2 separate regions of the Homo sapiens genome follow, and region 1 is linked to region 2. The links come from fine-mapping of genetic effects on gene expression. A gene starts in region 2. The other region holds a variant in brackets. All regions are shown on one strand. Distances are from middle to middle. Region 1 overlaps ATAD2B (ATPase family AAA domain containing 2B). Region 2 holds the start of FAM228B (family with sequence similarity 228 member B).

Region 1 (16,339 bases), 370 kb before region 2:
TTGTTTTTTTGTGTGTGGACTGTGTATTATTCTTTGTTGTTATTCATGTTTCTTAAACCAAAACAGACCTTACAAGAAAACTTACCATTTTAGTATATTATGTGGCTTACTGGGTGTCTTGATTGAGCTTTGAGAATAAGACAGGCATTTCATACCCAAACACTGGTTGTCTCTTAATGACATAGAGTATCAAAACTTATTTTCAAGGTTGTGACCAAAGAAATATTTCTAATTTATTTGCTTCAAACAGCCCATCCTTTTAGCCTTATCTTCCTCAAATGAATAAAAAGGCACGTTAAAGGCAGTTCTAAAGAGCCTGACCTAATTTCATCCAGTTTCTTCAGCTTCCCACCAGAACAGACCATAGCCAACTCTAAAACAGGTTTCAGTCCATTACCCAGATGGGGGAAAAATATGATTAAAGGGGTAAAATGGAGGAAAAAAAAATAACAAGTTGCCCACTGTTTAAACAATTCAACACAGTTAGAACTGCCCCCATCCAGTTTCCTCCTGTTTGCTGGTCTGCTCCCTAAGAGAGGAGTCTCCAAAAGAGAGTGCACAAAAAGAGGAGCAGAAGCGAGAGCAGTTTCTGTAGCACCAAAATCTCCAAGCTGTGGGGTTGTATTTTTTATTTGTGGAAAATACAACATGTTTCTGAAGTTCTGTTTGGTTCTTGTAGGCTGGTTGGTTTCAGGTACCTGAGACAATAGCACCAAATTCAACAGAGAGAAAGAATGAGTGAGAGAGCACTTTACACCAAGGCTCTGCACATAATTGGTGCAATTTGAAATTGAATGGCTCAGAAGACTGCTCTGTGAGGAGCAGATTGGAGAGGATAAACCACTCATCTTGAAAAGTTCATAGGAATGTCTCAAACATATGAACTGTTCTTTCCATCTCCTATAAAAGGAAAAAAAATGCATGTTATCTATTAAGGGAAAGACAAAAGTGTTCCTCATTACGGAAGAATTCACTTTAAATTTTTAGGGAATGAATTTGAGATACAGGTTAAACTTTGAATATTTTCCTGATTATAATACCATAGGTAATTAAGACTATCTCCCCTAGATACTTCCAAGTACCTCCTATTTTATATTTAGGCCAATAAGGATGATGATGATGGTCACACTCAACAAATAACTAACTTATTATGCCAGTAATATCAGTATGAGGTATGATATGAGTAATATGAATATAAGGATGATGATAGCAACACTTAATGAGTAAGTTATTATGCCAGATATTTACTAAGAGATTTCTATATATAAAATACATAAATATAAGTAAATATTTATATTTATATGTATGCATATATATATAATTTATATATATAGTTTTAACTCCCATAACATTGAAGATTGAACAAACGTATTACTATCAGGTCCATTTTACAGATAAAGAAACTGAGGCACAGAGGGGATAAATAATTTGACAGCTAACAGGTGGCAGTCAGGATTTGAATACAGGCAGCCTCACTCCAGAGACTGAGCCCTTCCTTCCTCATTATATTTCACTAACTCCCAAAGCAAAATGAATGCATTCAGTATAGTGAAACTTATGCCAAAAAGCAGAATGCATTGTGTTCCCACTTCTATTCACTCCAACCAGAGCTGAAAAGACAGGGTTAAAAAAGAGCCAGAATGAGTGGCTTCCATCACTACCACCATGAAAGCCACTCACTGCTGATTCTGTTATCAATCCCTTCCCTCCCTAAACTAGGCCTCTAGATTATTAGGATTCCACACTGAGATGTTTCACTGGTGAGGAGTATTTAATGCATTCAAGCTAATAAAACTGCAACCATATGAACAAAGAAGTTCTAGAATTAAAAAAAATGTGAATAACTCTACCCCGCACATTTTATTCAGGTGGGCAAATGTCAAATACATCTAAGACACTTGCATTTTTTCCTTCCCTTTAAACAGCTCCAAAGAAATTCTATTCTACATCTCTGCAAAACTAACAGGCTGTATTAACAGATCATCATCCGATCAACAAGTTCTTCCATGTGGCCAACAAAAATCACTCCTGCTAAATGTTTTATCATATATTGCCAAATAAGAAAAGAAAATTACACATGAAAAATAACTATATCCTTTACATATAAATCTTTAATATACTAAAAATATTCTTTGAGAGCAGAGACTTTGTCTTACTCATTTTTTGCATTCCAAACACCCAGCACAGCATCTGGCACTGCAGGTACTCAATAAACATTTAATAGATAGACCACCAGATAAACAAACTAACAGGCAAATCAACAAAGGGAGTTGAATTAAGTCATTTAGCCATTTTGTGGGTAGATGAGTGATTACATTTGCTCAGATGACCTGAAAAGGCAGAAGTGTGGTTTAATGATGGAAATTATATAAACAAAGATAGAAGCTCATATTTATACAGGAAGAATTTCCCTTGGTTTAGAGTTGTCTAGAAAGGGAATGTCTCATCTCTAAAAGTATCTCAGCAAAAGGACAGTCGCTCCTTCATATGGCTAATTTATAGGACTAGATTTGACCAAAATAAGATGACTTTTGAGTTATCTTCCAACCATTAATGGCAAATAGGTCTCACTACCCATGCCAACGCCTTTATATCAGCAGTGGCTACCTAGGAAGCAGTGATAAGGAGTGTGGGGCCATGACCACATCCGACAAGCCCAAGTGACAGGCTCAATTGGCACGTCAGTTATAAGCAAGTAGGGAGAGAATTGTGACATACTATTTCTGTATATTTACCACCCTAGAACCATGGATTTCTGTGTTTTGACAAAAAAAAGGAACCCCAGATTACTTCTTTCCAGAGACAAAATGGTACAGAAAGGCTTTATTCTTCAAACTGTAACTCTTAATGATTTTTGTCTTAAATCTTCAAAACATTCTTCAGCTACTTGGTAAAAGACATAGATGTAGGCAAAATAACTTTTTTTCCTCTTTTCTTTGGAACAAGTAAAATCAAGTATTTGTTTATTCTACAGATAAACTAAACACTTACCTCTACAAGTTGTGATTTGTCATAATCTTTACGATGACGGTAGATACACTGACTAAGAAGAGAATATAATCTCTCAAGCTGATCAACTGCCAGATTGTTGCTTTTATCCACCAACAAATCAAGCAATTTCTAAGAAAAAACAGAAAAGAATAAAATGTAATTTGATTTCACTGGTCAAACTGAAATTGTATATTCAAATGGCTAGTCAATAAACACCATAAAGCGAGGATGTAACAGTGAACATGAAATTAAAAGATTTGAGGGCTTAAAATCATTCCCTTAGAATATCTTGGACTACTCCCGTATCTTTCAACTCCTTAAAATACACATAACTCTTTTTTACTAGGAGCTCTGAGGCATTTATATTTCAGGGTTAAAGCAGGAAAACTACTTTTACTCAACTGCCTACAAACACATTCAAATCTCCGTCCATTCATTTAAAACTTGACTGGGAATAGCTAAGCTTACCTTCAATCTCTCACGATCAACTATAAGAGGAGGCACAGGCTCAGATGGCTCTTCTGGAACCAGTTCCAGGCTTGTCGTTTTTGCCTGCTCTAAAATTAATTTACGGTATTTCTTTACTTTAGAAGCACCTATAATTGAGACAAAAAAATACACTGCAGCAAGTAAAAGTTAAGAAAAACCAGTCTTAAGCAGTTATAAATTCTTTTACCTACCACACAAATCCCTTTTGGAATGAGGAAGGGTGTATTCTTAAGTGATTTTTTTTAAAGCAACCCAATGTGGTAGATTTTTTATTGGTAAGACTAAGTAACCCAAATTAAAGAAAACTAAACTACAACTTAAAAAGCCAAGTCATACTAAAGTATCACCTAATAAGCATATCCACTAAAAGGAAGATAAAAGCAATCTTCACCTCTAAGCACTGACTTAACAAACAGCCTTCACTCTATGACAGCTACCATTTTACAACTGGGAGCTTTCAGAACCACAAGAAGGGAAGCAACCTAGAAAAGCAGATACTAACAAAAGTGGGGCCCACCTGTCTACACATTTGCCTCCCAACCTAAAACATTCCCTTCAGCATTGCCTGAAATTTCTTGTCTGTTACACTGCCTAAAATTCTATTAGAAATTGATTCAGAGTTTAACATTTTTTTCTTAAAAATATAAACCCATTAAAAGTGTAATAGGGCTGGTGTTCTTTCCTACCTTAGAGTAAATTAGTGTAATCTAATTACTTTCCTCCTCACATTTTGCTGAAACCAGCCACACTAAACAAACAGAAATTTTAAGGTGGCTAAGCATAATTTCACGAACCCAGGCATTCTGAGGGGTACAAAGGGTGGGTAGACCATGGAGCCCTGTGCTCCCCTAAGTAGGACTACTCTTAAGAGGAGGATGAGTGAGGGGAAGGAACACAAAGACAAACTTGGACTGTTTCAGAATTTCATACAGGATGTGGCCCATGTCAGGGACACTAAGGAGAACATATTTATTAAGTGTCTCAATGCAGGGACCCGCCTCCATCCTACATTAGTCCTCTTATTTCTTACTCCCAAGTCTTTAAACTCATCCTCCTTCTCAATGCCTGCTTTATAAAACAAACAGCAAACGAACCAAAGTATTGCCTTCAAAAACATGTATCATGATATATCAGAGAAATTTTATATTTCAGGCTGCTTTTAATGTGAAAGACTTCATAGTTCAATTACCATATGCTAGGAGTTTTGTTAAAATCATATTGATCCTCATTACTACATCCATGGACTTCTAGAGGCCTGAAAACTCAGATTAGGATACTGTCCTGATAATTCCAAATGAAAGCTTCAGGTCAAACTTTTACACAACAATTATCTTTATAGTGTTTAGATCACCAACTGAACACAATATTAATTTAAGCCTTTTTCAGCACGCTTATGGAAATCTCATAGAAATCAGCATTAAAATAGACTCCTCTATCCCCACCCATTCGGCCTCATACCAGATTCCTTCTCCACTTTTCCCATGCTGTTATATTCATTACTTAACCCTAGCTTTAACATATTTTTAAAGTTCTGTCTATCTGATAGCCCAGAATGAATACTGCTCTGAAAACTATTTTAGTATTAAATATTGAAGAATAAGACAAATGTTTAACAGGTAGCATTTAAGAACAGTAAATTTCTCTTTATCCATTAAAGGAATTCTTAGACTTTGAATAATATTTTCCTGCTTCCTAACTCTGCTAAAGGACTTAAAATACTGGCAGAAAAAAAAAAAATTTTCCCACATAGCCCAAATCCCAGGCTGAAGCTGTGTTCTCCACTCCACACAATTTAGAGAAAATAATATAATTTTAGGATAGCCTCCTATAAGAGTACCTATCCAGGAAGGAAATGTATATTGAGCAGGGTAGATATCAACTCATCCCAGACCCTGCTATGGGCTAAAGAATAATGATAAAGACAGGCTAGAAACCCTTAACTCCCTCTTTCTGCTGCTTCTTAAATGAATCATGTAGCCATAAGAAGTCAGAAGCTGGGAGAGTACTCTGATTCCCTGAGAACAAGGTAAACTTGACAATGATTGCTCTGCTTCTTTCCCCCACTATTGGACTTATAAAGCAATGAAGGCTTTTAGACTGAACAGCCCTTGGATTCAATTAACAATGACTTCCTGGAATGAATATACCTTAGTATGTGCCAGTTACCACGAGAGGCAATTAAAATACACGACTTATTTAATCCTTGCAACACCATTCTGAAGTTGAATTTCCTAGATGAATAAATAGGCTTGGAGAGTGTAAATAATGAGCTGAAAGTCACATGATTATAATGAACAAGAGTGGTAATTTAATCTAGGTCTATATTACTCTTCCGAATATATCATACTGCTATTATCACTAAGTCTTCTCTGCCCACACCCAGCCCATGCCAATAATTCTTCTTGGAATTCCATCTTCTTAACACCTGTGGATTTACTCAGCTTTCAGTCATAAATCCCTGAGGCTAGGGGTGATAATCAGGCAGGAGGCAGAAGAGTAAGCGGCCAGTAAAGCAATGCACTCGAAACGATACACCCTCTGAAACTTAAAGCAAAATTTGGTGCATGCCTCTGTGTGTGTGTGTACGTGCACACATGTGTGCTTTTCTAGAGAATAGGATGAAAACTTTAACATATTCTCAGAGGGGTATAATTATTCATCAACTATTACTACTGGGAACCAGATAAAATACACAACGAATTAACTCTGGAGTTTAAACCTTCAGAAGATTTTTCAAATATTAGCTCTACCTTCTTTATCCAGTTCTGCATCTTTAACCTCCACATCAGAGCCAGGTTCTAACTTCTCATTATTGCTACATTCCAGTGCCTCTAGTTTCTCAAGATCATCTCCATGATTTTCAGTCGAAGTTTCTGGTTTTTCTTTTGACTGGTCCTCCAGAAGAATCTTTTGTTCAGAACTACATTTATCTCCACTATCACAGAAAGAAACTACTTCAAGCTTGCCATTCTGACATTCCAGAACTGGTATTCCTTCAAAACTGTCAGTGGAAGCCTCACCATTTAGACAATTTCCTTTAAGGAAAGTCTCTTTCCTGGAGGTCTGCTCCGGGTTTAAGGAACTGCTGCTGTTGACCAGTAGAGATTCATTTGAACTTTCCTCCTCAGTAGATGCAAAGTTCTCTTTTGTGCCTGCTCCATTGTTAAGCCTCTGCCCCTGGTCCAAGTCCATGATGTCACAGGATGATTCATCATTGGTCATAGATAAGTCTCCAGTCTCTTCTCCATTTTCCTCATGGCAGTCAGTGCTTACCTCAAACTCTCCATTCTCTAATAATTTCCTGTCCTCCGTATGGTTCTCATAGTCTGCAAATTTGGTGTCTTCTTCATCTTTTTTTAAATTATTAACTTTCCTTTTCTTAATAATTCCTTTACCCCACTGTGATCTCCGCCTTGATTTTCTCCGAACCCGAACTGTTTTACAAGGAAGGAAAAAAGATATGTAGAACTTGGAATGCAATACCAATTTTACATATGTTTATTAAACAGGACCCAAAAGAAAGTAAACCCATGCTGATGTAACACACAAAAACTACTTAGCTCTTGACATTCATGCTGACTAATCCTTGCAACCTACAAATGGAATGGATATGAAGTCAGGGATGAACTCTGCAGAATAAAACATTTTTTAATGTATTTCCTGTATGAGTTTATTCAGCACTAATCTTTTCTACTATCCTAGATCCTACTTTACTACTGTTCCTAATTTTCAACATCCAAAAGCCACGCATATAATATACACATTTAAAGAATGACCACATTACCAGGCTGCCAGAAAGTTTGGGGCCAAAGCCCTGGATTTCCACCAGGAAGGTGGATGTTTTACTAGCAAAAGGTAGCTCCTAAATCATGAAAGAAAATAAAGACATGATTCAATATAGCATAACAGAACAGTTAAGGGTATCCTCACAAAGAAACCTCTCCTTCCAGAAAAAGGAATCACCCAAAGTTAAGTATGACCATGGATAGATGCCTTATGAAGGTTATTTGGACAATTTGGTGAGCCAACTGTTAATCTCTTCTAGCACAAACAGTTCACCCAGCAGCATCAATTTCTTGCAAAGTTATTTGAGAATATGTAGGAAAACTAAGCCCTCTGCTATCAAGGCAACAACAACAACATAAACAAAACACTGAAAATAAATACTTGGTCACTTATGTGAAAAGGGAGGCCTACAAAAGTTGTAAGGACTATACTCTTAGATGCTAGAAACTATCATGAGCTTTATGAGTAGGCAGCTAGGGCCTCTAGGTATTAATGGACCCTGGAATTTTTAATTTCTCACATATGTATCAAATTGAGGTAGATGGTTAAGCAAGTCTACCTCATTGTCCCTTAAATAAACAAAAAGTTAACTTTTATAATTTGGGACACTTGCATAATACAGTTAAGTGTTCTTCAGAACACTTAAATACAAAAATTATTAAAGCAAACCACTTATGCTAGAGCTGAATCACTTCTGGTATCTAACCCCAAATTCTAAATACTAGTTTGTTGAAAGTATCAGAATAAAAATATTCATTTTTTCTGTGGTTATGAACATAATAATTTTAACTTAAAAAAAGACAATATATATGTTTAATACATCAAAGCTGAAAAGCTTCCTGGGCAAAGATATTTTTTAAAGAAAATATAAATATGAAATCACTAACTGTAGGCTGTTTAATCTGTAGTTTAAAAATTGCTTTATAGAGACAGAAAGGAATATGGTCTTTTAATGACAACCCTTGTTTCTTATATTCACACTGCTTAATATGAATTTAGAATCTATCAACAGTGTAGTGTATTTACATACTTATTTAATCCTTTCATCTTTAATTCCTGCTGCATCTCTGTAAATTCACAAGAAATAGATAAATTTAGTTATAAATATTACTCTTCTTTCTTACCTAAGAATATATCTCCTAAAGGTTTCTGAAATCATCTCCAAAATTCAGGTTATTGAGTCATTTGGCTCAACATGTATTTTTCCTTCAAAACTGTAATCCTGTTAGCACTAACTCTTCATTCTTTTCCCCTATTAATTTCTATTTATATAATTTAAAGTTACAGGGTAATTAGCATAGAGAAGAAAATTTCTGTATTAATCTACTGTTAAAATCTGGTACACAGGCTCAGGTGATGGGCATTTGTAAACATCCCATTAGCTATAAGAAAAACTAATCTAGTCCATATAAAAAATAAAAAGCATTCAGCTTGCTCTGACTCTGCAAGTTAGCGCTATTAGGCTTTTACTACCTGACAGGCCATTCCTGACACCATAACCTCTCTTATTCTGCAACCATGTAACTGAAAGTACAATAGGTTCCCTTTTTCTTTCCTAAGCCATGAAACTAGAGCAAAATGAAGCTGAACTCTGCTCAATCAGGAGTCACCTCAACTACCTGACATGCAGTACATAAGCAAAGGCTGGGAGCCCTGCTGAAGCAAGTTACTGCAGGATAGACCTGGCTAATACGGTAAGAGAAAATGGTCTTAATCTTTGGGAAGTAGGACTGGAGGTATTTTTCTCTTCCTTATATAATTATTTCTAATGGTTGGTATAATTTTGGCAAAATAAGAGAAACAGACCACATTAGCTCCACAAGAAGAGATTTTTGTTTTAGTCACTGATGTATCTTCACAGTACCTGGCATGTGGCAAGAGTATATATTAGTATTTGTGGACCTAATGCTTAATATACCATTTCCAGCTAGGCATGGTGGCTCACACCTGTACTTCCAGCACTTTGGGAGGCCGAGGCTGACGGATCACTTGAAGTCAGGAGTTCGAGACCTACCTGACCAACATGGTAAAACCCCATCTCTACTAAAAATACAAAAAAATGAGCCAGGTGTGCTGGCAGGCGCCTGTCGTCCCAGTAGCTTGGGAAGCTGAGGTGGGAGAATTGCTTGAACCTGAGGAGGCGGAGGTTGCAGCGAGCCAAGACTGAGCCACTGCACTCCAGCCTGGGCAACAGAGAGAGACTCTGTCTCAAGAAAAAAAAAAAAAATAAATAAATTTATATA[T/TACAC]ATACACACACACACACACACACACACACACACATATACACACACACACACACATACACACACACACACACACACCACTTCCTTCATCGGGGTGCTCTGTGTGAAAAGTCCATTTAGAGACACGATCTTTAGAGTCAATTTTTATAGCATCACTGAGTTTGTTTCCAAAACTAAGGCCTTAGGAAAGCAACTACGCCTTAGGGACATTCAGATTTCTTATTTAAGTTAATGTAAAACAGAAAAATTATGGGTCGCATATGCCATCTACTGGTAAGAGAAAACAAAACTCATATTTGTAGATTCAAAAAGTTTTTAAAATATTTAAAGGCACTTAAAACTTCTTCAAGTGAATAGTCAATGTATTTTCATTCATAAATATTTGTAGCAGATGCATAGAATGTAAAGAATTTCAAAGTTTAAATTAGAGTACTACATTACACAATCCAAGTCATGATCTGAAATACAACTAGGCCAAATAGGCTTAATCAGTTTCACGGCATCATCGAGTCCTTTCTCAAACTTTCTCATATACAAATGCCACTTACCAAAAGGGGACAAGCTTTAAAAAGGTGGGTATAGTTTATTCATTCAAATTCAATGCCACTGGTGAAACAACATATTATAGCTAGCTTTACTGACAAAGTAGTTCAGGTTGAGTATCCAAAATCCAACACTTTTTGAGCACTGACATGTCGTTCAAAGTAACTGCTCGTTGGAGCATTTCAGATATCTGATTTTTGGATTAGGGATGCAGAACCAGTAAGTACAATGCAAATATTCCAAAATCCAAAAAAAATCCAAAATCCAAAACACTTCTGGGTCCCAAGCATTTTGGATAAGGGATACTTAACCTGGATTATCACCTTTATACCAGAAAAACAGCATGTATCTTCCAAGGAAGGCTATCTTTAGTGAAACAGAAGAACTCTATTAGAAAGACGCAGTGTTTATTAACATTTGACTTTTGGAAATGTTATAGATCAACATGAATGAGTACAAAAAAACTCCCAATTTTCCCTTTAAATACATCTCACAAAAACTACAAAGAAAAGAAGGCTGTGCCAATTTTTCAAACTGAACACAAAATAGTCTCTCAGAAAAATCAACTTCCTGTTGCCAGATCAGACACACCCACATGCGGGAGTGTCCATTTCCCACCCTAAAGAGAACATCCTGCATAGTGTACAAGGAGTGGAGGATAAGGACAGGGGCATATAAAAATTCTACTGGCTCCACATGGCTATCCAAAAACCAAAGTTTAAAACTGAAAATATTCAAGCCTAGTTCAATTGTCATAGCAAATAATATTGAATAGGGATAGAAAATAACAAATAAAGTTAAAGAAATATATTTCTGATTCAGCATTTACCTCACAAGCTCTTCTTCACCTCTGAAAAGAGATTAAAAGAGCTATGGGAAAAGAGCGGCACTTTGTTTTGTACCCAATTCCTAACATATCTACATCATTCTCAGTTGTTCTCACTACTGGATAACATGAGCTGAAATACTCACATGCACATTTATTTGCAGAGTTGTGCCACACATCCATTGGATTTCTTTGTTTGTGCCGAAATGCCTCTTCGACTCTAGTTTCTGTCTTCCGAGCTCCAGTACTATGAGGATTTATTTGTTCTGATGTTACTGATAAGCCTGCAAGCAGAAGATAAGCAATACCTCTTTAAATATTCCCAGCTACATAAACCAAAAGGTTTTTAAAAAAATCTCAAATACAAAACTGAGTTTTAAAGTCATTAATTATACTAGGGCAGTTTGCAGTTCCAATGAAAGCAGTGTCTTTTGTTTTAAGATGGGTAAGAAACTTAGATATAAAATCATAAAAATAAAACAATCTGGCAGGCCATGTTTACACTTAATCCCCAAAGGGGCCCTATTTTTATTCATTTTAATTCACAAAGAGGCACATTTTACATTATTATGACTGTGGAACAATAAGATTATATATTATCCAAAAATAATGACCTCTGCCATCTTAGAATGTACAACAGTCTACTGGGCTACTAAACCCCATTCCCGTGAACTGTTTCAAAATGCTATTTGCTTCCTGTCGCACCACACTGCAGTCAGTTTGGTTGTCCTGCATTATATTCCTAAGACTAATCATTCTATCTTAATTTTCTTCACTAGAGATTTATTTCTTCTATGTGGTCCTTAAGTTGGTTTTTCTCCAGGTTCTCTCTGTAACCACTTTTCTTCTTACTCTAATCTACACATTCCCCAGCGAAGTATCATTGTGTTCAGGTTCAATTACTATTATATAATAATTCTCAAATCTGTATCTTTAGCCCAAACATCTCTGATCCAGATATACAACTTCTGATCCATATATACAACTCCTTACTTCATATCTCCAACTGAATTTCCTAAAGATAGATCAAATTAAAGATAACTGGTTTATCTTTCCCTACAAAACAAAACAGTTTGTTCTTATAGATTCCCTATCTAGATTGGGAGTATTAGTATCTACTAAGTCACTCAACCAGTAATATGGCAGCCAGTTTTTATTCTTCCTTCACTTCACAGTGCTCTCCATCCCTGCGGCTACATCTCACTTATATTAATCTCTTCTAACTCCCTTCCTACTTCATTAATTAAAACCCTGGACTACTCCAACAGGTTTTTGTTCCCCAACAGCTTTACTGAGATACAATTTATATAACATAAAAATCACCTGTTTTAAGTGTACAATAAATAGTTTTTAGTAGATGTATAGAATTGTAAAATCACCACAGCAATCCAATTTTGGATAACTGTCCCAGGCAATGACTACTCCACTTTTTGTCTCTATAGACTTGCCTTTTCTGGACATTTTATATAAAAGAAATCATACAATATGTAGTCTTCTGGGTCTGGCTATTTTTACTTAGCATAATGTTTTGGGGTTTTTTTTGTTGAGACAACATCTTGCTCTGTCACCCAGGGTGGACTGCAGTGGCATGAACATGGCTCACTGCAGCCTCAACCTTCTGGGCTCAAGCAATCCTCCCAACTCGGCCTTCCAAATGGCTGGGATCACAAGTGTACACCACCACGCCTAGCTAATATTTCTCACTTTTTTGTAGAGATGGTATCTTGCCATGTTGCCCAGGCTGGTCTCAAACTCCTGGGCTCAAGCGATCCTCCAACCTCTGCCACCCAAAATGCTGGGATTACAGGCGTGAGCCACCATGTTCAGCCAGCATGTTTTTGAAGTTCGTCCATGTTGTACTGTGTAACAGTACTTTGTTCCCTTTTATTACTAAGTAGTATGCGCTTGTATGGGTATCCTATGTTTTCTTTACCAATTCACCAGCTGACAGACATCTGGGTTGTTTCCAGTTTGTGGTTATTATAAACAATGCTCCTATGAACATACAAATGTTTATGTGGACATATATTTTCATTTTTCTTGGGTAGATTCCTAAGAGTAGAATCACTGGGTCATACAGTAAATCCATGTTTAATTTTTTAGAAATTGCCAAACCATTTTCAAATGGGCTCCAACAGCTTTTAAACTGATCTTTCATCTTCCTACCCTGGCACATTGAAACCATGTTACTTCTTCCCGCCAAGGCAATTCGACCAATTCATTTCACTGCTTAAAATCCTTCAATGATTTCTATTGCCTATGGCTATCAAACTTTAGTGTACATAAAAACTCTTGGATAGTTTGTTCAAATAAAGATTTCTTGGCCTTAATATTCTCAGAGAATCTAATTCATAGGTCTAAGCTGAAGTGGGTAATAGGCAGACATTTTTGAAAACACTGATCTACAAGATAAATCACAAGCTCCTTAGCATGGCATTGATTTACTCAAATATTTACCGAAAACCTGTTTTATACCAGATGGGGTTCTAGGGACTGGAGCAGAGATATAAACAAGACATTCAAAGTGCTGATATCCTAAATAAGGAGGACACGATCAAAAAACAAATAATATAATGCCAAATGCTACCAAAGCCTCTATCAGATTAGGTGGTCAGGGAAGAGCTCTCTAAAAAGGTAGAAGAAAAGTTTCTTCATAATTTTTGTGTCCTAGACCCCGCACCTCTTGAGCCCTATTTCCAGCATTCTGTATTTCTTTAGCAATACCAGTTTAACACACCTCTGTGCCTTTACATATGCTATTGTTTTCTCTGTGTGCAATACACCTCCTCCTCCTCTATCACTGCCTCCCTAGTCCATTAGAGAGAACACTTCTATATTCACTCCTTACTCTGATCAAAATGCTGGGTTCCCTACTGGGAGGTCTCATCTCTGTGCTCTGAACATGCTTCAACCAGTGCATACACCACACTGTACTTGATTGGTTTTACATTTCTCTCTCTCCTACTAAAATGTGAGTTCCTCAAGGACAAGATTATAAACTGAATTGACAAACCACAATTGCTAATTCTGTGTTTCTAATAACAAAATTGCATATAAATTTCACTAGGGTGGGAAAAACAGTATACCTAAACATGTTTTTAAAGTACCAGAAAGTAAACTGATGAAAAATAAAACCTTTTCATATCTAATATCTAAATCCATTTAGAAATCAATTCTTAAAAAAGATATACTCCTACAAAACAAATTTCAATAAGAAACACTTTATTTCTGTAATACACACTATCACACTAAAACTTTCACAGTAGGTAAAGTTGTAAAATATCTTTGAGAATTTACATAACACATTAGTATCAGAAATTAAATAAATACATTAAATACATTACTTTCATAATACCAGCAATCCTAAAGAAACAGCGTTCAAGTACTCTTGGCCTGAACAGAGCACACTAGGCTTCAGTACCAAGTTTATTTCTACAACTTACCTCTTTTTATTCTTGCTTCCTTAATTTCCTCACAAAGTTTATTAAATTCTGGATCTAATTCAGCTGCAATGATAGCATGTGCAGTGTCCTTCAGGGTACAAGCCCTGTGCCTAATTATTTTATCTGTTAAAAAAGTTGGTATATATTTATTATAGAAACAAATAAAATAACATTAACAAAGGACATCTTAAAAAGTAAAAGAATACAAACAAAATTATAAAAAGCATTGCTAGGTGAGAAAAAGTTTATTTAAAGTATGGGTAAAAAAATAAATATACTAAGCTACTCAGTCAAGTTAGTAATTCTCTGAAAATTATACTTTAAGAACCTCAAAGGACTAAACCTATTACCATTTCTGAAGCAGTCTGGAGAATTACAAGAAAAAGATACATGGTTTCAAATTTCTGAAAACAGAAATATGTGATTTTCAGTAAAAATTTAAAAAGTATTTAGAGGATATTCACCAAATGCCCAGCCCCAGAGTTGTCAGAGATTAATATTAGGAATTCAAAAAAATCTTAAATTTCTCCTAAGTTGACATTGGTCAAAACTATGCTAAAGAATACAATATATTTTAAAGGTGACTTATTTTTTTTTAAATGTGACAAAAACAGAGAAATACAGAAAGACTTTCTAAGCTAAAGGGCACAAGATGGTGTATACATTGTAGGTAGATCCAGGAGAGAAGCATAAACATGGTTCCAGGTAAACTATGCCTAAAAATGGTACTAAAAGAGGAGCCTCTGCTTCACACTAATCCAGAAGTTCCCATTCATAAACAATACAATATAAACAGTGCCCCCTAGATCTGTGCAACTCAGAAATATGAAAAGGCAAGTAATATATCAAGGTAACTAATATTCTAACAGTATCAAGAGCAAGAATCCAGAGTTGCAAAACAACATTTGCTTTTTCCTCTCTAGTAAGGGCAAACAGTATAGACAAAGTTACAGAGACACTTTATAACTTTTCTGATTTGAAAGTTATTATGGCTCATTGTGGTAATCTTACAAAACCAAACATGCACCACTCAAAGGCACCACTGATATTTACTTCCAACACATTTTCTCTAAACATTCACTCAACAAATGTTGTCGACTGCACCAGGGAAAGCTGGATGGTGGCCACCCACAGCAGTGAACAAAACATACATGATATCAACTTTCAAGGACTTTTTCAGACCACTACAGGAACAAATCATCTCTCATACATCCAAATTAACACCTCCTCCCTCCAAAAAAGAAAAAACCCAAAAGCAAAACACCCTGAAAAACAGCTATGAAGAAAACCTACAGGGTACTGGTGTGGGTTCCAATTTAGATTGAGCAAGTCAGGAAGAAGACTCTCTGAAGAACAGGCATTTAAACTGACACTTGAAGCACAGACTGGAGTAGCTACTGAAAGAGTAAGGGGGGAAAAAAAAAAAAACAACTAGTGCAGGTTCAGAAAATACCATGTGAGAAAATCCTGCTGTAAAGAGTTTGGAGATTTCAAGAAACTGAAATGCAGCCAGTGTAGTGTTATGAGTTCTAAATTTCTTTTCAAAGAATCAATATGTCAGTATGTTCAATTCTTTGCCTTCTACTTTTAAACTTAACTTCCTCGTAAAGCAACCTTTTTCGATTACCTGCTCTACCCTGACTCATTCCAATTACCTGCTCCACCCTGACTCATTCCGATTACCTACTCCACCCTAACTCATTCCTATTACCTGCTCTGTCATAACCATTTTTCCCGCCAAAACACTTACCTCGTCATTCTCTTTAAATTAGCCAATCGGAATTAGTTTAGCCTGTGTGGTCTAACCCTAGCCAACAGGAGAAGGACACAGCAGTGGGGGGCCACATGCATCAGGGATAATAAACCCTTCCCCTCCCTTGTCCAAGTGGGCGCCCACCATTACTCCATCTGTAAGGGTGCACCCTTCTATAGAAAAACTTGCCTTGCTGAGAATTAAAAAGAAAATTTTATATTCAAGTGCTTTTTGAGGTACTGAAACTATTTATAACAGTAGTCAGAAC
Region 2 (16,339 bases):
CAGCCTGAGCGACAGAGCGAAATTCTGTCTCCAAAACAAAACAAAACCTGATTACAGCACTTGATGTACTCACGTTTTAAAGATGGGGTCTCACTATGTTGCCCACACTGGGCTCAAACTCCTGGGCTCAGTTGATCCTCCTGCCTCAGCCTCTTGAGTAGCTAGGGCTACAGGTGCACTCCACCATGCCAGGTAGCACTTCATTTTTTTTTATACAGAGTCTTGCAGAATAAGTCACAACGTATGCTTAAGATTCTTTTTTCAACCTGAGGACCTGGCCGGGTGCAGTGGCTCACGCCTATAATCCCAGCACTTTGGGAGGCTGAGGCGGGCAGATCACTTGAAGTCAGGAGTTCGAGACCAGCCTGGCTAACATGGTGAAACCCCGTCTCTACTAAAAATACAAACATTAGCCTGTGTGGTGGCAGGCACCTGTAGTCCCAGCTACTTGGGAGGCTGAGGCAGGAGAATCTCTTGAACCTGGGAGGCTGAATCTTGAATCTCTTGAACCTGGAAGTTGCAGGGAGCCAATATCACACCACTGCACTTTAGCCTGGCTGATAGAATGAAACTGTGTCTCAAAAAAAAAAAAGAAAAAGAAAAACAGAAACACAAAATAAACAAAAAACAACTAAGGACCTAGAATTAAAGATGCTAACATTTTACCAATGTTACAAATGTGACTCTCTAATATATTTATTTTAAAAACAATCCTGCATTTTTTTTTTTTTTTTTTTGAGACAGAGTCTCGCTCTGTCATCCAGGCTGGAGTGCAGTGGCACGATCTCGGCTCACCGCAACCTCTGCCTCTCCGTTCAAGTGATTCTCCTGTTTCAGCCTCCCAAGTAGCTGGGATTACAGGTACCTACCACCACACCTGGTCTAATTTATGTATTTTTGGTAGAAATGGGGTTTCACCATGTTTTCCAGGCTGGTCTCAAACTCCTGTCGTCAAATGATCTACCCACCTTGGCCTCCCAAAGTGGTGGGATTACAGGCGTGAGCCACTGCACAAACCTGATTAATTTGTGTGACAGAAGTAGCATAGCATCCTTTTCCTGTCTATTTAAAGGTTTTCTTTAATTAATATTCATGCCCCTAGAATCTTTCATAATACAATTTTTAAATGGTCATAGTTCTTCTTCTTCTTTTTTTTTTTTTCTCGAGACAGAGTCTCGCTGTGACGCCCAGGCTGGAGTGCAATGGCGCTATTTTGGCTCACTGCAACCTCCACCTCCTGGGTTCAGGTGATTCTCCTGCCTCAGCCTCCTGAGCAGCAGGGATTACAGGTACCCACCACCACACCCAGCTAATTTTTGTATTTTTAGTAAAGACAGGATTTTGCCATGTTGGCCAGGCTGGTCCTGAACTCCTGACCTCAAGTGATACACCTGCCTCGGCCTCCCAAAGTGCTGAGATTACAGGTGTGAGCCACCCCATCTGGCCTGTAATTCTTTACTTCCCAAATTTTCTACAATGATCACGTATAATTTTTTAGATAGAGAAAAATATTTTTTTAAAAAGGAGTAAAGGAAACAAAAGTCAGTCATAAGACAACTGGCTCCTGAGTGGATATCAGCCTTGTCCATCCTTCCTGATCATACGACCATTTCCAAGATAGCTGTCCCTTCCCAGAGCAGTGGGATATTAATGGCGTGATGCCAGCAGTGCACTTCTAACCAGGGCACATTCTTTGGAGTCTGTGGAGTTTTTTGTGGCCCTAAGCAAGAATACTAACCTTTAGTGCCAGCCACATGACCTACATTACAGTAGTCAGGCAATTTATCTGGTCTCCTCTGGGGAATTAGCCCTGAGCCCTAGCTGACAGGGTAAGAGCCTGGCTTCCTGACAGCCAAATTGCCCATCTTTCTAATCTCATATTCTGGTTATTTTAATTAGATAATTAACCTGGCTCTCTATGTCTCTGTTCTGCTCTCTGCTCCTGCCCTACAATTCTGAAATGGAGCCTCCTTCAAATCCTGACATCTGTTCAGGAAGGGTCCAATAATGCAAAATGCAATAAAATGAGGCATATCTGTACATAGGTATATAGTTTCTGTGATAAACTTAATTTCTCAATTGGCCCTTTAAGATTCAGCTCTCTGGCGCCTTCCCTGACTCTGCTAGGCCGAAGTAATTCATTGATTTATTCATCAAACATGTACTAATTGCCTACCCAACATCAGACACTGTGTTAGGTAATGGAGAAAAAGAAGGATTAAGACAAGACAAATGCCTTCCAGGGATTCACAATCTAGATAAACAAAGAACTGTAATGGGGATAATCATAAAGGTATGCATAAAATACATACCACAATGGATAGAAGCCTGAGATCTGACTTGGTTCTTTAATGATGATTAGGAATTTGCAGAATAGATGTGAGGGACAGGAAGGAAACAGAAAATATTTTAGGCAGATAGAACAGCATGTACAGAGGCATGGAAGGCAGAAGCTATATCTTAACCAGCTCTGCTTCCCTAATTTATCTAGGATAGTGCAGGGCACATGGTAAGTACCTCTGAATGTTTGTTGAATGAATGAATGAATGAATGAGTGGCTGCTTTTGTTACTAGAGGCTTCTGTTTCAAAGGAGTGTTTATGCAACTCCAGTAAACTTTTTAAAATTTAAATTTAGATTTTGAAAAATCTAAACACAAACACAATTTACCATTTATTAAGCTCAACTCTCACCGATATAATACCCAAGCTAGTTCTCTATGAGATCTTTATTCAAAAATGTATAGACACGGAGGGGGAATGCAGTATATACCAACAAAGTGGCTGCCTGACTCACAGTAATTCCTTTTCCTGTAAAATGTCTCTTTATATAGGGTAGACCCCCAGCAGCCACATCTCTGCCTTTTTACCCTGCTGTCTCCCCCCTCCCCTATCCTGCCCCACCTACATAGCTGACTGATACAGGGGTAAACCATATGACCTGAAACTTGCCAAATCAGGGTCCTAAGAGAAATTAAGGGGTATTATGGGAGGCTTGGCCATGATATCAGCCAGGAAAGGAAACAGTTTGCTATGAGACAGAACAAAGCTGACTCATTTAGAAGTCAAGACAGAATCCTAGCAGTGTTCCAGTCCCTGAATCTACCTTCCCCATGGCTCAGCTGCACCCTGTCCTTCCAGTGGCTATGTAAATAACCTCAGCATCCTTCCAATAAATTCCTCCTTTCTGCCCTAGCTGGTTTGAGTTGGATCTCTGTTACTCGTAGTCGGAAGACCCAACTAACATAGGGAATGAAGACAGGAACTAGGAGGCCAACTTACCCAGGCTCTCTGTGGCTTCCACACAGATGCTAGGATACATGCCCTCAGTGTAAGTTGCTACCAGAAGATACAGATGGGTCTTCACGACAACCACACCAGTGTTCTCCTGTATAAAGAATATAAGAGAATATTCTGCTCTTGGTTCTAATCACAGGACCAGTGGTCATGCTCCAGCTACGTTTTTCACCATTTCCTGATTTCCATATGTTTGGAATATATATGGAATATACATATTCCGTATATATTTTCCATATGTTTATATATCTGTTTTTGGACTGTCCACTCTTTTCCACCAATTTAGTTGCCTTTCCTCAAAAAGTTTCAGACTGTTATAATAATGGTAGATGGATTTTGAAAAAGTTCTGCAATTGATTATCATATACCCCATCCCAATTAGAACAACTGATGTAGGCCGGGTGCAGTGGCTCCCGCCTGTAATCCCAGCACTTTGGGAGGCCAAGGCAGAAAGATCACCTGAGGTTGGAAGTTTGAGACCAGCCTGGCCAACATGGTGAAACCCCATCTCTACTAAAAATACAAAAATTAGCCAGGCGTGGTGGCAGGCGCCTGTAACCCCAGCTACTCGGTAAGCTGAGGCAGGAGAATCTCTTGAACCCAGGAGGTGGAGGTTGCAGTGAGCCGAGATCGTGCCATTGCACTCCAGCCTGGGCGACAAAAGTGAAACTCGTCTCAAAAAAAAAAACAACAACAAAACAAAACAAAACAAAACAAAACTGATGTAATGGAAAGGTCGTACATTTTGGAATTGGACAGCTCTGGGCTTGAATTCTAGTGCCTCCTTTTCTGCTGCATGAGTAAGGGTTATTTAACCTTGTTAAGCCTCAGTGTCCTCATCTGTAAAATGAGATTATTTAGTTTATAATGTGGATGAAGCAGCATGCCTAACCCATAATATAGGGCATCCAATGAATGATTTTCATCTCTTTCATTCCTTATAAGCAACAGAGAGCTGATTTTTTTTAAAATTTTTTTTTTGAGATGGAATTTCGCTCTTGTTGCCCAAGCCGGAGTGCAATGGCACGATCTCGGCTCACTGCAACCTCTGCCTTCTGGATTCAAGAAATTCTCCTGCCTCAGCCTCCCAAGTAGCTGGGATTACAAGGGCGCACCACACCTGGCTAATTTTCTTGTATTTTTAGTAGAAACAGGGTTTCACCATGTTAGCTAGGCTGGTCTTGAACTCCTGACCTCAGCCTCCCAAAGTGCTGGGATTACAGGTGTGAGCCACTGTGCCTGGCCACTGAGAAATGTTTTAAGCACAGAAATGATTATCTCTTTTTTTTTTTTTTTTAAAGGAGGATGTAGAGTATGAAGGTGGGACTGTATTGGAAAGAGTTCAGGCAAGGCTCAGTTAATAGATTCTGGAATGAACATTTCTCAAAACCAGGCTCTTGATAGGACTTTCTTTCACATATGTCTTCCTGGCACTAGACTGCTATCTCAAGACAATGGCTCAAGACATTAATGGATTTAATCTGTTTTACAGAAAGGATCAGGCAGAGCAAGGAAATTTGGAGGCAAATTCTTTTCTTTTACTCAGCTCTCTTCAAATCTTGAGCACTCACATTTTTGGCATAAAGAGAATATTCATCTGCCCGGACACATCTGTAATCTTTTCCCTTGAAATACAGTCCTTCTCTTCGGGCTTGCAAAGGGTTCTTGGCAAATCCATTCACCAGTGTTCGGACATCACTGGGCGTTACCTGGAGAGGTTACATGGTTAGAGCAGGAGTCAGCCAACTATGGCTGGTGGCCAGCCAAATTTAGCCCACTACCTGTTTTTTATGGCCTGCAAGCTAAGAATGGTTTTCATGTTTTTAAATGGTTGGGGAAAAAAAATCAAAAGAATAACACTTCGTGACACTTACAAATTATATGAAATTCAAACTTCAGTATCCATAAATATAAAATTTTATTGGAACACAGTCACATTCATTCTTTTATGTATGGCTGTTTTTCCTCTACAATTGCAGAGTTGAGTGGTTGTGACAGAGACTCTACGGCCCTGTGCTATAGTTTGAATCTCATGTTGAAATCTGATTCCCAGCGTTTTCGGTGGGGCCTAATGGGAGGTATTTGGATCATGAATAGACTGATGCCCTCCCTGCGAGCTGGGGGAAGCTGTGAGTTTTCACTGTATTTGTTCCAGGAGAGCTGGCTCTTAGAAAGAGCCTGGCACCTCTCCACTTGCTCTCTCTTGCTTCCTCTCCCCCACTGTGATCTCTGCACATGCTGGCTCCCCTTCACCTCTGCCATGAGTGGAAGCAGCCTGAGGCTTTCACAGATGACCAGTCTTCCAGGCAGTAGAACTGTGAGCCAAATAAACCTCTTTTCTTTATAAATTACCCAGCTTCAGGTATTCCTTTATATCAACAGTAAAAAGACTAAGCCTAGAAACCTAAAATATTTATGTAGCTCTTTACAGAAAAAGTTCATTTAAAAGTCATGTCTGGGCTGGGCACGGTGGCTCATGCCTGTAATCCCAGCACTTTGGGAGGCCGAGGCAGGTGGATCACCTGAGGTTAGGAGTTTGAGACTAGCCTGACCAACATGGTAAAACACCATCTCTACTAAAAATACAAAAATTAGCCGGGCCTGGTAGCGCACTCCTGTAATCCCAGCTACTCGGGAGGCTAAGGCTCAAGAATCGCTTGAGAGGCGGAGGTTGCAGTGAGCTGAGATCATGCCATTGCATCCCAGGCTAAGCAACAAGAGTGAAATTCCGTCTCAAAAAAAAAAAAAAGTCATGTCTGCTTCATTTTTTGGAAGAATAGAAATAATAAGTAAATCAAGTCTTAGGTCCAAACTTGTTTTTTCTTACATTGAAACCTGGTGATGCTACACACAAGCTCCGCTCCTGGATTTTGATGAGGGCTGCACTGTCCACATGCTTGGTTCCCAAGAGGGTGTCTAACAATAAGCTCTGCAAATGGCTCATGTTCCCTCAACTCTGAAAGGGAAAGTGCAGTTGAAGCCATTGACTCTGGCTAGCTTTTAAAAGGCATGTGAATACAAATGTCCTTAAGACACTGCAGACAGTTCTAAGATCAGCAAGTGTACTTTGAAAAGGTACAGGGTGAAAACGGTGGTCCATCATTCAGGGCCCACCAGTACCCAAAGAGGAAAACAGAATCATAGAAAAATCACAGCTCACACAGAATAGGTTATGAAGCTGAGTTTGGAAAATCACAGCCTGGTGATTTTCTGGCTATGTCAATGGTTTACATCAGGATTATCTGCGATTTAAAAACAAACATTACACACTGAGAAAAACTCTGTAAAATAAAAAATAAAAACAAAAAACAAAACCCAGCCAGGATGGAGAGCTACCCTGCTAAGTTAAACACGACTAAAAGAGATTATGCGTGGCCATAAACCCACACATTCCCTTCCCGGTGACCTGCATCAGCGCCAGCTATGAACGCTGATCAACATCCCAATGGACTAAAAACACCTTGAAGGCACTTAAACCCACATTTCCCGCACAAGTCCCCAAGCCTTGGACCCCCCTCATCAGGACCTCCGGCACAGGCGCCCGTTTCCCGCCACTGCCTTCCAGTGGTTTGGTCCCCGAGCAGGACCCAAGGCGGGGCAGGGGGTGGTGAGCGGTGAATTCCCTGGCACCGAGGACTCGAGGGAGCGGACGCCACCCCGCTCTGTGGTGCCCGCAAGGACCCGGCGACCAAGGACCCGACCGTCAACGGACGCGGTTGCGGGTGGGTGGCGGCGGCAGGATTGGCCGGGCCACGCGCCGGTCACCGAGAAGCAGCGACTCCAGCCCCTTCCGCAAACCAAGACCCGCCACCTAGAGCCGCCGCCCAATCCCCTTTGGGCCTGAAGCCGTCCTCCGCCGCCCCGGCACCGCCCGCGCGGACTCGCTGTGGAACCCGCGGCGCAGGGGGCGGAGTGCTCGCGCGGCGCTGCGTCCGGGAGACGGTGGGCGCCAACATTCGCGCGTTCCGCAGACGCGGGCGGGCTCCCTTCCAGCCGCAGTCGGACGGCTCCGGGGTCGTCGGGCCGGGCCCGAGTGTGTAGCAGGACGGCCGCGGGCCTGCTGGCCTTGGGAGGGCAGAGAGGTGCCTGTCGCGGCCGGCGACCTCCCCGCCAGGCCGGGCGGTCCCCGCGCACGACGCGCCTGCGCGGGAGGCCCCCGGCCCGGGGCTGGCGTGGAGGCCGCAGGCGCCCGGCCTAGTGGGTGGGAGGAAGGGCCGGGAGTGGGCGCGATGAGCGAGAGCGGGTGCGGACGCCTACGACATCCCCGTCGCACCCGTGCCTCGGGGAGGACTTCGAGCCGCTCAGAGCTCGAAGACTCGCGCAGTATGACCGAAAGCCCCTCCCTGCCTTCTCTAAGCAGCTCAGCCTGTGTTTCTGTGGCCAGAAAGTTGCAGTTCTTCCCACTCGAGGCCACCAAAGTCAGAAAAGTGTTGCAAATGGGACTCCGAGAGGCCAGGCTGAAGCTGCCACACTGGCTGGAATGGGCTGCCTTGGAGGGGGACGTGGGAATCCATTCCAAGGGACGGGGGATTCTTTCAAAGAGCATCTCGCCTGCTTATAAAGGAGGCTGGCTCTGAAGCCGTCATCTGGAGTCTGTAGTGAAGGCCTCTTGTTAGGGAAACTGGATGGTTAGTGTTCAAAATCCATTTTGCGTGTGTGCAAGGACACAGGTGGTATTAAACAGAAGAGAAAATCAGATGACTGTGAAATGTTCAATACTAAATAAGATGATTTTTAGTTTTTCCAGGGGCATTGTTATTTGTGACCACAATGAAAAATGTAGACAGTGATGATCTGGTAACTGGCACACTTCCCAAGCTCAAGAGCTCAAAAGAATGGTTGGAGCCCAAGCCCCTTTGTTTTATGGAGGTATATATCAAATAGTGTGGGATTTGGAGATTTTTTTACTTGGATCGTTGCAGTAGGAAGTGGCTTGTGCTAAATATATTGTTTTTTCTATTGTTTGTTTTTATTTCATTCTGTTTATTATTCCCTTCACTTTACTAACTTTGTATATTCACTTTGCTGTTTTTTTCTAACATCTTAAGGTGGAATCATAGGTCATTGATTATATACCTTTTAAAATGTAACATAGCTATAAGTTTCTCTTGAGGTACTGCCTTAGCTGCATCACCCAAATTTTGATATGATGTATTTATTTATTTATTTATATTTGAGACAGGGTCTTGCTATGTTTCCTCCTGGAATCAAGCCATCCTTCCACTCCCTAGTAGCTGGAAGTATAGGCGCACGCCACCATGTCTGGCTAATTTTTGTATTTTCTGTAGAGATACAAAAAATCTCTACACTGTGTCGCCTAGGCTGGTCCCCAACTCCTGAGCTCAAGCAATCCACCTACCGTGGTGTTCCAAAATGCTGGGATTATAGCTGTGAGCCCTTGCGCCCAGCCAGTTATATTGTTTTTAGATTGTAGTTTCTTTTTTCTAAACAGCTTTATTAAGATGTAATTGATATACAGTAAACTGCATATATTTAAAGTGTGTGTCTGGCACTGTGCCTCATGCCTGTAATCCCAGCACGTTGGGAGGCTGAGGTGGGAGGGTCGCTTGAGCCCAGGAGTTCTATCTAGACCAGGCAGAGCAATATACTGAGACCCTGTCTCCACAAACGAACGAACAATAATAGCCAGGTGTGGTAGCATACACCTATAGTCCCAGCTGCTTGAGAGGCTGAGGCAGGAGGATTGCTTGACCCCAGGAATTTGAGGCTGCAGTGAGCTGTGATTGTGCCACTGCATCCCCACCTGGGTGACAGAATAAGACCCTGTCTCAAATAAAGTGTACAAACTTGGTAAGTTTTGACATGTATACACACGAAAACATCACCACAATCAAGATGGTGGACATATTCAGTACTCCCAAAGCTTCCTTAATATTCTGTTGTAATCCCTCCCTCACATCCCCCCACCACTGCTTTTCTTTCTTTCTCTTTCTTTCATTCTTTCTCTCTCTTTCCTTTTCTTTTTCTTTTCTTTCTTTCGCTCTATCACTCAGCCAGGAAAACACTGGCGTGATCTCGGCTCAATGCAACCTCTACCTCCCGGGTTCAAGTGATCCTCCTACCTCAGCCTCCTGAGTAGCTAGGATTACAGGCCTGCGCCACCACACCTGGCTAATTTTTTTGGATTTTTAGTAGAGACGGGGTTTCACCATGTTGGCCAGGCTGGTCTCAAACTCCTGACCTCAAGTGATCTGCCCGCCTCGGCCTCCCAAAGTGCTGAGATTATAGGTGTGAGCCACTGCGCCCAGCCTGCTTTGCTTTCTGTCACTCTAGTTTGCATTTTAAAAATTGTATACAAATGGAATCTTACAGTATATATTTCTTTTCCTTCTGTTTGTCTTCTTTCACTCATCATAATTATTTTGCCACTCACCCATGTTGTATGTATCAATACTTCATTCCTTTTTTGGTTGAATGCTATTCCCTTATCTGGATATATCCCAATTTGTTCATCCTGTTTATGGACATTTGGGTTGATTCCAGTTTGGGGCTATTACAAATAAAGCTGTTATGAACATTCATGTGTGTGTCTTTGTATGGACGTATGCTTTCATTTCTCTTGGGTAGATATTTAGTTGTGGAGTGACTGGGTCATATGGTAAATGAATTTAACTTTATGAAGCTGCCAAACTAGTTTCCAAAGTCATTGAATTATTTTACATTCCCACTAGTAGTGTGTGAGAGTTCCAGTTGTTTCATAATCTAGCCAACATTTGGAATAGTTTTATTTATACTGATTTATTGTATGGCCTTTTTAACTCAAGACATTTTAAAAAGATGTATAGTGACATCTCATTGTGGTTTTAATTTGCATTTCCTTAATGACTGATTATGAGCATCTTTTCAAGTCTTACTTGCCATTTATCTATCTTCTTTGGCAAAGTGTTTGTTCAAATCTTTTGCCCACTTTAAAATTGGCAATTTTAAGTTGGGTTGTTTGTATTCTTACTGTTGGACTCTTCCTATTGAGATATAATTTACATGCCATAAGATTCACTACTTTTTTTTTTTTTTTTGAGACAGAGTCTTGCTCTGTCGCCCAGACTGGAACGCAGTGGCGTGATCTCAGCTCACTGCAAACTCTGCCTCCCCGGTTCACGCCATTCTCCTGCCTCAGCCTCCCAAGTAGCTGGGACTACAGGTGCCTGCCACCACACCTGGCTAATTTTTGTTTTTGTATTTTTACAAAAAAAAAGTAGAGAGGGGTTTCACCACGTTAGCCAGGATGGTCTCGATCTCCTGACTTCATGATCTGCCCGCCTCGGCCTCCCAAAGTGCTGGGATTACAGGCGTGAGCCACCGGGCGCCCGGCCAAGATTCACTACTCTAAAGTGTACAATTCAGTGTTTTTTATTTTTTTTTAAATTCAGAATTTTTATTTTCAGTGTTTTTTAGTATATTCACAAATCCGTGCAACTGTCACCACTATCTAATTCCAGAACATTTCATCACCCCCAAAAAGAAACTTCACACCTTTTAGCAGTCACCCCCCATTCCCCTCCCTCTCTGGCTCCTGGCAACACTGATCTACTTCCTGTCTAAACAGATTTGTCTACTCTGGACATTTTATACAAATGGTATCATACAATATGTGGTCCTTAGTGACTGCTTTCACTTAGTATAATGTTTTCAAGGTTTGTCCGTGTCAGAGCATAAGCAGTACTTTATTCCTTTTGATGACCAAATAATATTCCATTGTCTCAGTATCACATTTTGTTTATCCCTTCATCAGTGGATGGACTTTTGGGTTGTTTCTGTTTTTTTGCTGTTATGAATAATGCTGCTATGAACATTTTGTGTAACTTTTTAGGTAACATGATTGCAGTTCTCTTGGGTATGTAACCTAGGAGTGGAATTGTTTGTTGGGTCATATGGTAACTATATGTTTAACTTTTTGAGGAACTGCTGAACTGTTTCCCACAGCAGTGATACCGTTTTAAATTTTCATAGCAATGTATGAAAGTTACAATTTCTCCACTGCTCAGAGTTCATTGAACTTCTTGTATCTGTGGGTTTATAGTTTCTGACAAATCTGGAAAATTTTCAGCCATTATTTCTTTTTTTTTTTTCAGCTGAGTCTCACTCTATCACCCGGGTTGCAGTGCAGTGGCATGATCTCAGCTTACTCCAACCTCCGCCTCCCGGGTTCAAGCAATTCTTGTGCCTAAGCCTCCCGAGTAGCTGGGATTACAGATGTGCACCACCATGCCCAGCTAATTTTTGTATTTTTAGAAGAGTTGAGGTTTCACCATGTTGGCCAAGCTGATCTTGAACTCCTGGCCTCAAGTGATCCGCCTGCCTTGGCCTCCCAAAGTGATGGAATTACGGGCATGAGTCACTGTGCCTGGCCTATTTCTTAAATTATTTTTTCTATTCCCTCCATCTTTTGGGAAATACAACTGTATGTACAATAACCTGCTTGAAATTGTCCTGTAGCTCACTGATATTCTGGTAATTTTCTTCAGTTTTTCCCCCGTGCATTTCATTTTGGAAAGCTGCTGTTGCTATGCTTTTAAGTTCACTAACTTTCTGTAATGTCTAATCTGCTAATAAACCTACCTAGCATATTTTTATCTCAAGTATAATTTGTGTCCCTAGAAGTTTTATCTGGATTCTTTTGTTTCGTTTTTTGTTGGTTTGTTGCTGTTGTTGTTGTTGTTGAGACGGGATCTCTCTATGTAGCCCAGGCTGGTCTTGAACTCCTGGCCTCAAGTGATCCTCCTACCTTGGCCTCCCAAAGCACTGGGATTACAGGTGTGAGCCATCATGCCTGGCCCTTAGCTCTTTTTCAAACATTTTTTTCTGTCTCAACATGTCTAGTCTTCTAGCTTCCCTAACTTATGAACTACAGGAATAATAACTTTTAATGTCCTGGTTTAATAATTATAGTGTCTTTGTCATTTTGGGGGCAGTTTTGGTTAATTTTCCTTCTTATTATTGGTTAAATTTTCCTATTTCTTTGTATACCTGGTGATTATTGGTTAAATTTTCCTATTTCTTTGTATGCCTGATGATTTTTGATTAAATGCAAGACTGTGAATTTTAACCATATTGAGTACTAGATATTTTTGATTTGCTATAAATACTCTTTTTTTTTTAAGTACAAGTGCACAGATTTCCCATAAATATTTTTCATTTTTCCCCTTGGATTCAGTTAAGTTACTTGGACACAGCAGGATTCTTTCAGGTCTTGCCTCCGAGTTTTGCTTGACAGGACCACAGCAGTATCTACCGTAGGGCCAATTTTGTTTCAGTACTGATACAAAACCTCTCCAAATACTCTACTCTATGCACTTCAAACTATGGGAATTTTTTTTTTTTTCCTCTGGCTGATGCTAAAGGGAACAAACACTCCTGGGACTGTGTGACCTCTAGGGATTGATTCCCTAATTCTTGCAGGTGTTTCTTTGCCCATTGTTCCTTTGGGCATGTAGTGTTTACGATCAGCTGAAGACTCAAGGGGACCTCTGCGGTTGACCCTTTGCAGTTCTCCAGAGCTCCATCTTTCTTGTAGCTCTCCTCCCTCTAGTACTCTAACCTATGAACTCCAACTGCTCTGGCCTCTCCAGACTCCCATCCCCACTCCTCAATTCAGGCAGACAGTTGGGCTGTTTGTTTTCTATTTCTCAGGGGCCACTGTTCTTCTTTGCCTGATGTTCGATATCTTGGAAACTGTTGTTTCATCTATTTTATCTTTTTTTTTTTTTTTTAGTTGTTTCAGGTGGGAGAGTAAGTCTGTTTCCTGCTACTCTGTCTTGTTCAAAAGTGAAAGTTCTCATCCAGACATTATTTTTTCAAACAGTTGTTTCCTGCTCCATTCTTTTACTCCTCACTTCTGCAACTCTATCCATTTGCTGAATCGTTTGATATTGTCTCATAGGTCACTATGACTCTGTTTATTATTTTCTAATCTTTATTCTTCCTTTTTTTTCAGATTGGGTAATTTCTAATAGTCTGTCTTCAAGTTCACTGACTATTTTTATGTCATCTCTAATCTGCTACTAACCCATTGAGGTTTGTTTATTTCTCAAATTTAAGAACTGTATTTTCCACTTGGTTTTTTATCATTTCTATTCTCTGCTAAGATTTTCTATTCATTAATTATAAGCATATTTTTAAGCATAGCTATCATAACTGTCCTCAAATCCTTGTCTTCTTTTTTTCAGATTTTCATGTCAATATAATTTTCTTTTTATTTTTCTTATTTTACTTTAAGTTCTGAGATACAAGTGCAGGACGTGCAGGTTTGTTACATAGGTATATATATGCCATGGTGGTTTGCTATCAACCTGTCATCTAGGTTTTAAGCCCTGCATGCATTAGCTGTTTGTCCTAATGCTCACCTCCCCTCACCCCCAGCCCTCGACTGGCCCTGATGTGTGTTGTTCCCCTCCCTGGGTCCATGTGTTCTCATTGTTCAGCTCCCAGTTATGAGTGAGAACATGCGGTGTTTGGTTTTCTGGTTCCTGTGTTAGTTTGCTGAGTATGATGGCTTTCAGCTTCATCTATGTCCCTGCAAAGGACATGATCTCATTCCCTTTTATGGCTGCATAGTATTCCATGGTGTATATGTACATTTTCTTTATCCAGTCTATCATTGATGGGCATTTGGGTTGGTTACATATCTTTGCTATTGTAAATAGTGCTGCAATAAACATACATGTGCAGATGTCTTTATAGTAGAATGATTTATATTCCTTTAGGTACATACCCAGAAATGGGATTGCTGCGTCAAATGGTATTTTTGGTTCTAATATCCTTGAGGAATCGCCACACTGTCTTCCACAATGGTTGAACTAATTTACATTCCCACTAACAGTGTAAAAGTGCTCCTGTTTCTCCACAGCCTCACAAGCATGTATTGTTTCTTGACTTTAATAATCACTATTCTGACTGGCATGAGATGGTATCTCATTATGGTTTTCATTTGCATTGCTCTAATGATCAGTGATGTTGAGATTTTTTTCATGTGTTTGTTGGCCATGTAAATGTCTTCTTTTGAGAAGCATCTGTTCATATCCTTTGCCCACTTTTTGATTTTTTTTTCTTGTAAACTTGTTTGTTTTTTGTAGGTTCTGGATATTAGAGCTTTGTCAGATGGGTAGATTGCAAAAATTTTCTCCCATTCTGTAGGTTTCCTGTTCATTCCAATGATAGTTTCTTTTGCTGTATAGAAGCTCTTTAGATTAATTAGATCACATTTGTCAATTTTGGCTTTTGTTGCAATTGCTTTTGGCATTTTTGTCATGAAGTCTTTGCCCATGCCCTGAATGTTATTGCCTATGTTTTCTTCTAGGGTTTTTATGGTTTTGGGTTTTACATTTAAGTCTTTAATCCATCTTGAGTTAATTTTTGTATACAGTGTAAGGAAAGGGTCCAGTTTCAGTTTTCTGCATATGGCTAGCCAGTTTTCCCAGCACCATTTATTAAATAGGGAATGCTTTTATTAAAGGAATTCTTTATTAAAGGGGAATCTTTTCCCCATTGCTTGTTTTTGTCTGGTTTGTCGAAGATCAGATGGTTGTAAATGTATGGTGTTATTTCTGAGGTCTCCATTCTGTTCCATTGGTCTATATGTCTGTTTTGGTACCAGTACCATGCTGTTGTGATTACTGTAGCCTTGTAGTATAGTTTAAAGTTAGGTAGCGTGATGCCTCCAGCTTTGTTCTTTTTGCTTAGGATTGTCTGGGCTATATGGGCTCTTTTTTGGTTTCATATAAAATTTGAAGTAGTTTTCTCTAATTCTATGAAGAATGTCAATGGTAGATTGGTGAGAATACCATTGAATCTATAAATTACTTTGGGTAGTGTGGCCATTTTCATGATATTGATTCTTCCTATCCATGAGCATGGAATGTTTTTCCGTTTGTTTCTGTCCTCTCTTATTTCCTTGAGCAGTGGTTTGTAGTTCTCCTGGAAGAGGTCCTTCACATCCCTTGTTAGCTATATTCCTAGGTATTTTATTTTCTTTATAGCAATTGTGAATGAGAGTTTATTAATGATTTGGCTTTCTACTTGTCTGTTGTTGATGTATAGGGAATGTTTGTGATTTTTGCACATCGATTTTGTATTCGGAGGCTTTGCTGAAGTTGCTTATCAGCTTCAGGAGCTTTTGGCCTGAGATGATGGGGTTTTCTAAATATAGAATCATGTCATCTGCAAACAGAGACAATTTGACTTCATCTCTTCCTATTTGAATACACTTTATTTATTTCTGTTGCCTGATTGCCCTGGCCAGAACTTCCAGTAATATGTTGAATAGGAATTGTGAGAGAGGGCATCCTTGTCTTGTGCTGGTTTTCAAAGGAAATGCTTCCAGCTTTTGCCCATTCAGTATGATATTGGCTGTGGGTTTGTCATAAATGGCTCTTATTATTTTGAGATATGTTCCATCAATACCTAGTTTATTGAAAGTTTTTAACATGAAGGGATGTTGAATTTTATTGAAGGCCTTTTCTGTATCTATTGAGATGATCATGTGGTTTTTGTCATTGATTCTGTTTATGTGATGGATTATGTTTATTGATTTGCATATGTGGAACCAGCCTTGCAACGCAGGGATGAAGCCAACTTGATGGTGGTGGATAAGCTTTTTGATGTGCTGCTGGATTCAGTTTGCCAGTATTTTATTGACAATTTTCGCATTGTACTTCAACAGGGATATTGGCCTGAAGTTTCCTTTTTTTGTTGTATCTCTGCCAGATTTTGGTACCAGGATGATGGCCTCATACAATGAGTTAGGGAGGAGTCCCTCCTTTTCAATTGTTTGAAATAGTTTCAGAAGGAATGGTACGAGCCCTTCTTTGTATCTCTAGTAGAATCCAGCCATGAATCCCTCTGGTCCTGGGATTGTTTTTTTTTTTTTTTTTTTTTTTTTTGGTTGATAGGCTATTAATTACTGCCTCAATTTCAGAACTTGTTATTAGTCTATTCAGGGATTCGACTTCTTCCTCGTTTAGTCTTGGGAGGGTGTATGTGTCCAGGAATTTATCCATTTCTTCTAGATTCCAACATATGGGTCAT

Evidence for each region. PIP is the estimated chance that this variant, and not a neighbour inherited with it, causes the effect.
Region 1: its variant is fine-mapped to the expression of FAM228B in whole blood (INTERVAL, PIP above 0.99).

Annotation. Positions count from the first base shown.
Region 1 is chr2:23,751,188-23,767,526 of GRCh38, forward strand. ATAD2B (ATPase family AAA domain containing 2B) reads right to left here. Exons shown (of 28, transcript NM_017552.4): 23 at 14,319-14,441; 24 at 11,022-11,159; 25 at 6,231-6,914; 26 at 3,460-3,587; 27 at 2,992-3,120; 28 at 1-900. The coding sequence ends at 859. Among named protein-coding and RNA genes, the nearest start is that of ATAD2B, 170 kb to the right of the region's middle. The variant T/TACAC (reference allele first, on the strand shown) is at 9,510.
Region 2 is chr2:24,116,297-24,132,635 of GRCh38, forward strand. It overlaps FAM228B (family with sequence similarity 228 member B), which reads left to right and starts at 7,173. Exons shown (of 11, transcript NM_001145710.2): 1 at 7,173-7,237; 2 at 8,034-8,164. The coding sequence starts at 8,066. PFN4 (profilin family member 4) reads right to left here and starts at 7,038. Exons shown (of 5, transcript NM_199346.3): 1 at 6,822-7,038; 2 at 6,123-6,251; 3 at 4,867-5,004; 4 at 3,281-3,386. The coding sequence starts at 6,239. RefSeq lists a silencer at 7,105-7,604 and an enhancer at 7,675-7,924.